Linked DNA regions of Homo sapiens: region 2 is linked to region 1. The links come from fine-mapping of genetic effects on gene expression. Tissue or cell type: tibial nerve. Region 1 holds a variant in brackets; the other region holds the start of a gene. All regions are shown on one strand. Distances are between the middles of the regions.

Region 1 (5,221 bases):
CCCTGCCTTGTGCTTCACAACGGCAATCCTCTCCTGACACAGTCAATTTTTATTTAATGTTTAGTTTGTTCAGCATTTGTCTCCCCCACCACTAGAAAGACAGCTCGAGGGAGCAGAGACCTTGTTCACCCTTGTCCCCCCAGTGCTAGTGGAGAGCCTAATACCTACTAGGTGCTCAGTAAAAATTTGAGAGCAGTCACATAGACAAATCAGACATATCCCTGGCCTGGAGAACCTGGGTTTTCCGTGAGCACTGCCTGTCATAAAATGGGCTTCTGGCCAAGCACAGTGGCTCACGCCTATAATCCCAGCACTTTGGGAGGCCAAGGAGGGCAGATCACTTCAGGTCCGGAGTTTGAGACCAGCCTGGTCAACATGGTGAAACCCTCGTCTCTACTAAAAATACAAAAGTTAGCCAAGCGTGGTGGTGGGTGCCTGTAATCCCAGCTACTCAGGAGGCTGAGGCAAGAGAATTGCTTGAACCCGGGAGGCAGAGGTTGCAGTGAGCCAAGATTGTGCCACTGCACTCCAGCCTGGGTGACAGAGCAAGACTCCATCTCCAAAATAAAATAAGAGGGCTTCTGACCTGTCTCTCACAAAGAAAGCCACAGAGAAGGTGGGATCTGGGCTCTGGGGTCCTAATCAGGCCAGCTATGCAGGCATCTGGGATGATAGCAGCCATTCTAGTGAAAACAGCCACTGCCTTTTGCTGCATGCTCACTCTGGACCCTGTAAGGAACCCTTCCCACACAGCATCTTATGGGCTTCTCCCCACCAGCCCCACAATGGAGGTGCTGCTATTCCTCCCATTCAACAGGGGAAGAGACAAAGCTCAGAGAAGAGGCATAACTAGTCAAGAATCACTCTGTCAGGGCCAGAGATGTGTTGGAGCATTGGAGCCCAGATGTGTTGGCCACCATGGCTGGAGCCCTTAGCACCAACATCAAGGTGCCACAAGGAAGCCAGAAGCCCAGCACAAAGAGATGAATGTGACCTTGCACAGGGAGGTCAGGGAAGGCTTCCCGGAGGAGGCAGCATTTGCTCTGGACCTTGACAGATACATAGGAGTTTTCTAGGTGAAGGGGAGGAGACAGAAGCATAATAGGTGTTAATCCTGTGGTCCATTCAACAGGCAATCATTGTACTCCTGTGTGCTGGGCAGAGATAATGCCCTTCTGGGAATGAAGCCCTCAGATTCCAAAGAAGGCTGAGAGGAAACAGCCAGTTGCTGTGAAACACAGAGCAGGGCCTGGGCCTGGCTGAGAGAAATCTAAGAGCAGGCATTGAGCACCTACTGTGTGCTCACATTTTATCCTTGCCGTTTGATGTGGAAGGTGCTATTCCCATTTTCAAAGAAAGGCACTGAGGCCATAGGCTTTGGGCTGCCTGTGCTTGGCAGGGGCGAAAAGGAGGAGAGTACCCTCCTGCCTGTCACATAATGGGCCTCTGACCTGCCTGTGCCCAAGAAAGGTTCAGAGGGGATAGGTTTGGGGTCTGGGGTCCTGATCAGGCCAGCTGGCAGAGAATGGCAGGGAAGGGGCCTAGAAGTTCCAACTCCCTGGCAGGTGGCCTCAGTAGCCTCAACAAGGTCTGACCCACACCCAGAGGTGCCTGTCACTGTTTGTGTTACTTGCTTTGGGACCTTGAGTAAATCATTTTATTCCCCTGGGCCTTCTGTTTTCTGAACTCCAAAAAGCTAAATGTGATCTTCAAGGCCCTGCTTCTGGCTTAGGCATTGCAGATTTCTAAGTGTGGTGTATTAGCTTACTATTGCTGCTGTAACAAAAAACCATAGACCAGGGGATTTAAAATTGATCAGCTGACAGTTCTGTAGTCAGAAGTCTGACACAGCTCTACCGGGCTGAAATCGAGGCAGAGCCACATTCCTTCTGGAGGCTGCGGGGGAGAAGAATCTGTCTCTGGGCCTTTTCCATCTTCTAGAGGCTGCCTATTTCCTTGATTCACAGACACTGAATCTTCTGCCTCCCTTTTCCACTTTTAAAGGTCCTTGTATTCCATTGGCCCACCCAGATCATCCAGGGTGATCTCCCCTGTCTTAAAGTCAGCGGTGAGACACCTTCACTCCATCTGCACCCTCATTTCCCTTTGCCATAAGCTGACATATTCACAGGCTCTGGGGGTTTGGATGTGGGTGTCTTTGTGCAGCCATTATTCTGCCTTCCACACCTGGAAACTGAGACATTTCTGAGAGGCCTTGGGCAAGCTGTCTCCCCTTTTTGGACCCAGTTTTTTCTCTTCTGTGAAATGGTGTGGCTGCTTTGAAAACAAAGTGAGAGGATGAGTGTTCAGGTGGGTTACAAAGGGTCAAGCGCCATACATGGGGTTAATTCTTTATTCCTGGGGTATTTCTATTGCCAGCAATGGCAGCTGGCAGCCTCTCACCGGGCCCTCATGCCTTCCTATGCCTTGTTCTGAAAAGCTGCAGCCCCCACCCCCGCCCCACTAGACCCCCAGAAAACAAACGTGGGTCTGTGTACCGCTCCTGCTCATTATAATCTCTTGCTTCTTTTCACAAAACCCCAGGGGCCCCTGGGATTTGGGAGCTGGGGGATGTCACTCAAGGATGCCTATTGAG[T/C]GCTAAACAATGGCCCCCTCATGAGGTCATAGGGCCGCTTAGCAACCACCCAGGCCCTTAGTAACGGGCCCAGAAGTGTTGATATTTACCCAACAGAAACTTTGGATTATCTCGATAACACCCAGTTCCTTCCAGAGAGCTGCAGGCACTAAAAGCAAGCTCCACCCACTCCGAGCTGCTGCTCTGGCTCTTCCAAGAGCAGGCCTATGGAGGGGCAGGGAGTCCTGGGTTTCCCCCCCAGCTCTGCAATCCTCTGAGGGCCTCAGTTTCCCCCACAACATGGGGATCAGACTAAATAAGTACTAAATATTTAAGTAGTATGACTGTATGTCCCTGCTGGCCCAGAACAGTTCCATTTTATCAAGACTATTAAAAGAGGCGTTTTCATTCTCAAGAGTTGGAACATCAACCTTCTGGTCACCCACCTCTAAAAGGCCACTTCCAGCCCTCAATCCCATTGTTCTTCCCCTCCACCCTCTTTCCCAGTCTGAATTAATCCTGAATAGTTTCACCTAGCTTTTTCAAGGTCCCTCTCTGTGTCAGGCATGGAACAGGGCGCTGAGGAAACTGAGGCAAACCAGACGTGGTCCCTGCTTTCAGGAGCTTCCAGTCCGGGAAAGAACACCGCTTAAACACTCTGCAGAAATCTAGGTCTGAATCTAGAACCTTGCAATTCTCAGACTTATTTGTGTTGTCTTCACTAAGCTATTTTAGTAAATAATAATACTCCATAGAATTCCGGTGGCATTTTGCAGTTTCTAAAGCATTTCTGTTATGTTCCCTCATTTAACCCTGACATCATCTGAAGGTGTGATTTTAATATATTCCCATTGCACAGATGGGGAACTGGAGGCTGGAGGCCATAGAGGACAGAGCAGTTGGATGCCCTTGAGGAGCAATTCAATCTCTGCCTCCTTGCCTTCGAAATGGAGATGTTAGCTCCCACTTCATAGAACTGTTATGGAAAGTAAATGAGACAGCACATAGAAAGTCCTTTGGAAAGTGACAGCTGCCTAAAATGAGTGTTTCTGCCCTGAGCTGTCTGTGGCCTCAGCAGTTGCACTTCCTGGATGTTCTCCAGTTCACCTGCTTCTCACATGCCCACAGACACCCATTTGTAAATTTCCTGACCCATTTTTGAGCACAGGGAACACATCTTGGTTGGAACCCCAGCTCTGCCTCAGGGCAGCACTGTGGCCTCGGGCAACTTCTAGCCTCAGTTTCTTCATTTGTAAGAGGAGATAAGAACAAGTCATCCTGAGGATGGAAGGAAGCAAATAACATAAAAGCAGTGCTGAGGGGAGCCAACCCAGCACATAGCTGTTGCTCACAAATGGGAGGTTCTGGATTGCCTTTCTGATGTTAAGTATGTGAGAAGACTTTGAACGTGTTTGTGTGAGAGGGAGCTATGGAGGGCAGCACCCACAAGATGGGATTTTTCCCTCACCCCAGGAGCCAGGCCAGCACTCACTTTGGGCGGAAGGCAGGACGCTGCCACCTTCTCTAAGGTTGGCTTCCAGCCACGTTGCAGCAAGGGGGTTCGGCTGACGAAAGCTGTTCCCTCTGTGCCCCACTCACCTTGCAGGAGGAGAAGGGCCCCCTCTTCCCCTTTTCTTTACAGAGTAGCTCCACAGGGGCAAATCTGTCAGATGCCATGGTGATGCCTATGTGGTTTCCCGCCCACGCCCCTCGCCAGTGCTATGAGTCACCAACCGGCACCGAGGCGGCGGCCGTGGGAAGGGTGTTCCCTCTCCGGCTGCAGAAATGCTGCCACAGGCGAGCTCTAGAAAGCCAAAACTGGGCCCCAGGATAGGCACAGTGAGGTTCCTTATGCAACTTTTGACATTGTTCGGAATCAGTGTTACAGAAAGCCCAAACCCAGCCCCATGATAGGCATGGCTACATTTCTTATGCAACCTTGGCATTGTTCAAAAGCAGCGTTAATGTTCGCAACTTCCATTTGCTGAGGGCCCTAGGGAGCTGGCCCAGCCTAGACTTCATGTCCTGCTTCCCACAGCCCAGGAAGAAGCTAGAGTCCCCTTTTCAACAGATGGGGAAAGTGAGACATGCTTGGGGTCACATGGCCAGGACATTCCCAGATGTGACTCCCCTTTACTGGCAGACCAAGGTAGCTTTTGGAATTGGAGACAGACCAAAACAGGTAAATATGATTGATACATTGTGTTCTTGTTTGAATGAAACATAATTGTGAGCAATTGTGTACAGTTGCCGGGCTGAAGGTTTGAACTCTTGATTTCTTAAAAGGAAAGAAAAATCTATCTCTAAATCTGAGTTAGCCTAGAATAGAAATATGTTTACAGCAAAATATTTCTTTATACAAAACTTTGCATTGCCAAAGCAGGGCTGTGGAATATGCATGCGTGTTAGTGGGGTGTTACAGAGGAAGGAACTGCATCAGGGATTGTATCTTGCAAGTAGCACTGACAGTGATCACAGATCCGCATCTGAGACGTTGAGCTTGGCCGCTTTGGCCCCATCTGTGCCCATGGTGGGCTTGATAATCGGCACGTCCATTCACCACTGCCTTGCCAGGTCCTAAAGCCATACTACCTGCTTCACTGCAGGCTGCGTCTCTCATCTTTCCCCCACTGAATTCACTGATCA
Region 2 (5,221 bases), 48 kb after region 1:
CCTGATCTTTTTCTTGAGGCTTCGGTTTGCTGAACTGTAAAATGGGAGAATTGGATAGGAGTTCTCAAGGGTCCAGCAGACTCATTCAAGCCTTTACTGCACCATCTAACACATGCTGGGACCTGAGACCTGGAATGCTGGAGACATGTCTGATGTGGTCACAGCCCAGTGAGGGAGACAGACGTGTAGACCATCACAATACAGTGTGGTCAGAGGTAGAACAGAGGCATGAACCAACTCAGTTGGTGGAATCAGGAAGGACTGTCTGGGGAAGCAGAATTTGAGTTGGACTTCGAAGAATGAGTAGGGTGGGCCTAGAACTGGGGTATACCCACAAGGAAAAACCTTCAAACTTTGCTGTTCAATATTTGCACTGCCTCAGGAGATAGGGGCATCCAGTCACTGCGGGGTGGATGCAGGCGCTGAAAGACATGGGATCTGGAATGTCAAGGAGATGGGAACTCGGCCAGGTGGCAGTTCTAGTCTTAGGGTCTGAAAACCAAAATCCACAACTGCCTGAGAGTTTGGCTGCTAGTGTGCGTTGGTGAGAGCCCAGCCCGTCTCAGACAGGGACCACCGGGAAGGTAAGACTCAAGACTTGGGAGCGGACGAGTGTCAGGGCTCCCAGTGAGCCCACACTCATGATGGCCTGCGCATGCAGGCAGCCCTGGGCTTGGAGTCCAGAGGCCTCCGTCACAAGTTTGGTCTACTCTTTACTGGTTGTGCCACCTTGCCCTGGCCACCACATCCCCCTGAACTACACAGAGCTTCCCCATCTGTACCTTGGGTGCTCACGGCAGCCACCCCAGAGGTAGTTGGGAGGATCAAATGATTTACTGTTTTGTAGGTGGCCTTTACAAACTGTAAAGTGTGCCGGACACAGAAGGCAGTGTGATTGTTGAAATGTGTGGCTCATAACAGGCTGCTTCTCGGGCTATTTTGTAAGCAGGGAAAGCAGTTTACCGCCAAAGATGTTGAAGTAATAATGGTGGGATTCCTGGCACAGACATGTAGGCTGGCAACAGATGGGAGGTGCAATGGGCCTTTCCGCCTCTGCCCGTCTTTGCCCACCCTCGCTCCAACATCTCGGAACAGCTTTACACGGGCCTGTTTTGGGGAACGGAGAGCCTGTGGGCCTTGGGGAAGGGCAGATGCTTGGCCCTGGTCCCTGGGGTGGAGCTGACTAGGGACTGCTGACTTAGAAGACCACCTAGAGGGGTGGCCAGTGGAATCCCCCCAACTACACCCCTAAGAGGGGTAGAGTTCCCATCTGCACCCGCAAGATGAAGCAGAGATGAGGCTGCTTTGGAAGCCCCCAGTCTTGGGCTATTGGTGTGGGGTCGAGAGCCTCCCTGAGGGGTGTCCTGGGCTGCTCTGTCAGAACCCCAGCAGGGAGCCTTGCCTGGCCTCTGACTCACACCCTTGCCCCAGTGGAGGCCAAGGCCTTGAATGACCACCCGGCCCTTGACATCGTAGCTTCGCAGCATCCTCCCTGCGTTGAGGCCACCCTGCGGGCTAAGGGGCAGGTGGGCACCCTTCCATGGGGCTGGGGGCTGAGGAGCAAGGAGGTCTCAGCATGGCCTACTGGTGGGAGACCCACCTCAGGCGCTCCCAACTGTCTCCCTCCCGTGGCCCCTCTGCACGGCCGGGTTCTGATTTTGGTGCAGTGCAGACTTTCAGCTTAACGAGACAAATTGGTATTCTGTGCCAGCCCAGGGATGGAGCGGCAGCTCGGGACGCTCGGGCGGGCAGCTCAGAGGTGGGCAGGAGGTGGGGGCAGGGGAAAGAGGCAGCTTCTGCCTGGAACTGCCTCCCGGGGCCGCCTCCAGCCCTGCCCCTGTCCCCCATGCACCCCTCCACCCTGACAGGTGCCCTGAGACACTGGTCCTGAAGGTCCTTCCACCTTCAGTGCCCTCCCTCCAAGCAGGGTACCCCTCCTGGAGGGGGCAGGGCAGTGGAGGCCAAGGCTTCAGAATTCTAGAGAAGCCCCTCGCCCCCGGTGACCTCCTAACCTTGCTCTTAGGGCTCTCCTCCCACCCATCTGGAGTTGAAAGAGCAGCAAGTCTGGCAGAGATTAGGCAGGAAGAGGTGAGCAGCTGGCTAGGGGCTTCCAACCCTACCGACTCCTCACCCGGGGTCCCTGGGTTCCCGTGGAAGTGTCAGTCAGCCCACAGTCGGCCTGCAACTCATCATAGATGTCCTGAAGATTAGGTGGGTGTACAGACATGCAGACACCCCTGCTGGTGGGCACCTTCTTGAGGCAGGCCCTTCTGCCAAGCCAGCCCCCACCACCACACCCCCCCGAGGGCAGGTGGGGTCGCACACAGGCAGGGCGGGTCGCAGGGGTAGCGCTTCAGGGCAGCAGAGAGCTGCTGCGGGCTCAGCTCCACTGGCCCTGGAAACACAGATGTGTTTAAAATGTGTTGAGTCGACTTCTCCCCATTTGCGACCTTTGCCCCTTTGCCCCCCAGGTCTGGGGGTGCCTTGACTGCAAAGAGGGGGGCCAGAGCCCCTGACCAAATAAGTCCCCCAGAAAGCAAGGGACGACTTGGGGCCATTTGAGCAAAATCCTCCCCTCTCTGCTCCCGTTCTCCCCACCACCACTCTCAGGACCCCCTTCCCTCCAGCACAGCCCAGCCCTACCCTCTCCGTGCCCTTGACATTCCCTCCTGCTTCTGGGGAGCGGGCATATTCCTGGGACTCTGCCAGCTTCGGTTCCTCATGATCCCACGGGAGGAATTAAAACCGCAAACAACAGCGTGGTGGTTCGGTCCACACACCCCCCCCGCCCCCCACTCTCCTCCCCCGTGCCCCCTCCAGAACCGGCCCTCCCTGTGTCCCTCCCTCCCTCCCTCCTCCCGCCCCCATCCCCCAGCCTCCGGCAGCGGCAGGGGCGGCCTCTGCCTCCCCCGAGATTGCATTTTGCCGGCGAGATGCTCTCCTAGAACCGGCGCCGGCGCCTCCGCCCCCCGCCCCCCACCCGCTCGGGCAGGATGGTACAGTCTGCAGAGGGGCCCGGGCACGCTGGCTGGGCTCAGCCGCGGCACCAGCTGCCGCACCGCGATTACGGGGCTGCCCGCCGGGAAACCGTGCAGGATTGGTGGTGATTTTCATAGCCAAGTAAGTACCGGCATCCCCCAGCATGAGAAAATAAAAAATAAAAAGCGCCCCACTCCACTCTCCCCTTCCTCCCTCACCCATTTTATTTTGTTTCATTTCATTTGATTTTTCTCAGTGCTGATGGTGGTGGCGGTGGCAGCGTGGAGGGGGGGTGGGAGCAGGGCTTGTTTATCTGGCAGCAGCCGAGGCTGCACTGGGAGCCGCCGCTGAGGGAGACACTAGTGTGAGGGTCCGCGTGTTGTGGGGGACGGCTGGATGCTGGGGACTAGGACAGGGGGGCCTCGGACAAGCGGATGCCCAGGGTCTCAGGTAGATTCCGGCAGCCTCTGGACTGCAAATGCCCCCTAAGGATGTTATGCAAGGGCCAGCAAGCTGGTGGCAGGGGACAAGGTTCTCTTCTCTCTGAGCCGGTCCCAGGGAGACCAAGAGGACTGGAGGGTGCCCGTTGCCCACCCTGGTCAGAGTCCCAGGAAAGAGGCAGGAGGAGGCCCCTGTGAAGCGTCCCTTTGGTGGGGTGGGCAGCTGTGTGCTGGGACTCATTGGGTCAGGCCAGCCGGGTCATGTGGTGGCAGGGACGTGTTCCTGGGTCCCCTCCATGGCCAGGAGGGTGGCAGGAACGGGTGGCCAGGCCATTTTGCAGCAGTCATGCTGGGTGGTGGAGTCGGCACCCTCTGCCCAGAAGCCCACTTCCTAGGCCAGCCTCAGTGGTCTCCAGCTGAGGGATAGGGCACCTGAGGCTCCTCCCTGCCCCCTGCAGGGTCAGGATGGGAAAATGCAGCAGGGGGCCTCAGGACTCCCTGAGGGTGGGTTGCGGACAGCAGCAACCCCTTTCTAGCCAAGTAGCTATTCCACACCACGGCTGTCCTCTGCTCACCCAGGTTGGGGGTTGGGGGTTGGGGGGGTGCTCTGGACTGGCCTGCCCCAATCAGGCAAGGGCCCTGGGGGTCTCGGGCCCTCCATGCAGAGGCCCAGCCTGGCTCGACCTTCAGAAGGGTAAGTGAGCAGGCAAGCCCGACCAGCCGGCAGAGGGTCTTAGTGCGACGCTGCATGCCCTGAGCCCAGCGTGGAAGGGGCTCCCTCCTCTCCTGCATTGCTCTCCGAATCGCTGGGAGGAGGCAGAGCTGACGTTTGGGGTATTTCCAGGATCAGCGGGCGCCATCCGGAGAAATTCTCCTTTGACGTGTGCAGTAGGAGGGGGCTTGGAGCGCAGGCCTTGGGGGCCTCCGCCTGTTAACTTCGTTGAAGGAGCAGTGGCAAAGAAGGGGCTGCAGCTCTGGGGAGTCCTGTGGGGGGTTGGGGGTCCAGGAAAGATGCTGATGGCCACCATTATTTAGCCACCTTCACACCCTAGTCCCATTCACATCAGGGCATATGCATGCCCACAAATTCACACATATGCACAGATACAAATATAGTACCCATAAGTAGTGCGTCATATATGTCCAAATCATATATACACATATGGAATGCCCATGCCCACACCCCAGCACCTGTAAATACAACCCACGTTCCTGAACACCACATGCTCACGTGCAAAACACAGCACACACACGAATGCAGTACACACATACACACCTGTGCATGCAGCTTGCCCACACATGCATGTAGCACTAACACGGGAAAGCAGTAGGCTGCACACAGTGCCCTGCAACAGCCAGAAATGTGTGTACCCACCTGAGGGCTGGCTCAGGTGTGAAAACAACAGGCACACACATGTGGGGCTCTGAATGCCATCTGCGTGCCTGCCCGTGCATTGGCAGGCACATGGCATGCTGGAATGTGCCCACAGGTGAATGTCAGTTGCACACATAAGAAGACGGCCACAGGCACACAGATGCAGCACCTCTGCGGATGCTGCGTGCACACACCCGCCCCCTCAGCTTCCAGGAGGCAAGGTGGCTCTGTGGGTGCTAGGGAGAGCTTGCCCCTTAAGGGACTTCCGATGAGGACAGAGGGATACTGGATCCTAAGTGCCCGCCACAGCCTCACACAGGCGTTGGGGGAGGGCCAGCCCGTATTCCCAGGGAGCTGTGATTAGACTCAGCAAGGCCATCTTGGGTTATTGATGTTCTTCAGAGAAGGCTGCCCAAAGTTGGAAAGG

Evidence for each region. PIP is the estimated chance that this variant, and not a neighbour inherited with it, causes the effect. A credible set is the group of variants that fine-mapping cannot tell apart.
Region 2: it holds the start of ATP2B2, and the variant in region 1 is the best candidate, but not a certain one, in a credible set for the expression of ATP2B2 in tibial nerve (GTEx, PIP 0.67).

The regions. Positions count from the first base shown.
Region 1 is chr3:10,551,256-10,556,476 of GRCh38, reverse strand. It overlaps a transcript of ATP2B2 not described here. Among named protein-coding and RNA genes, the nearest start is that of ATP2B2-IT1, 17 kb to the left of the region's middle. RefSeq lists a silencer at 2,498-2,792. The variant T/C (reference allele first, on the strand shown) is at 2,597.
Region 2 is chr3:10,503,364-10,508,584 of GRCh38, reverse strand. It overlaps ATP2B2 (ATPase plasma membrane Ca2+ transporting 2), which reads left to right and starts at 2,999. Exons shown (of 23, transcript NM_001001331.4): 1 at 2,999-3,120. RefSeq lists enhancers at 3,010-3,676, 3,677-4,343.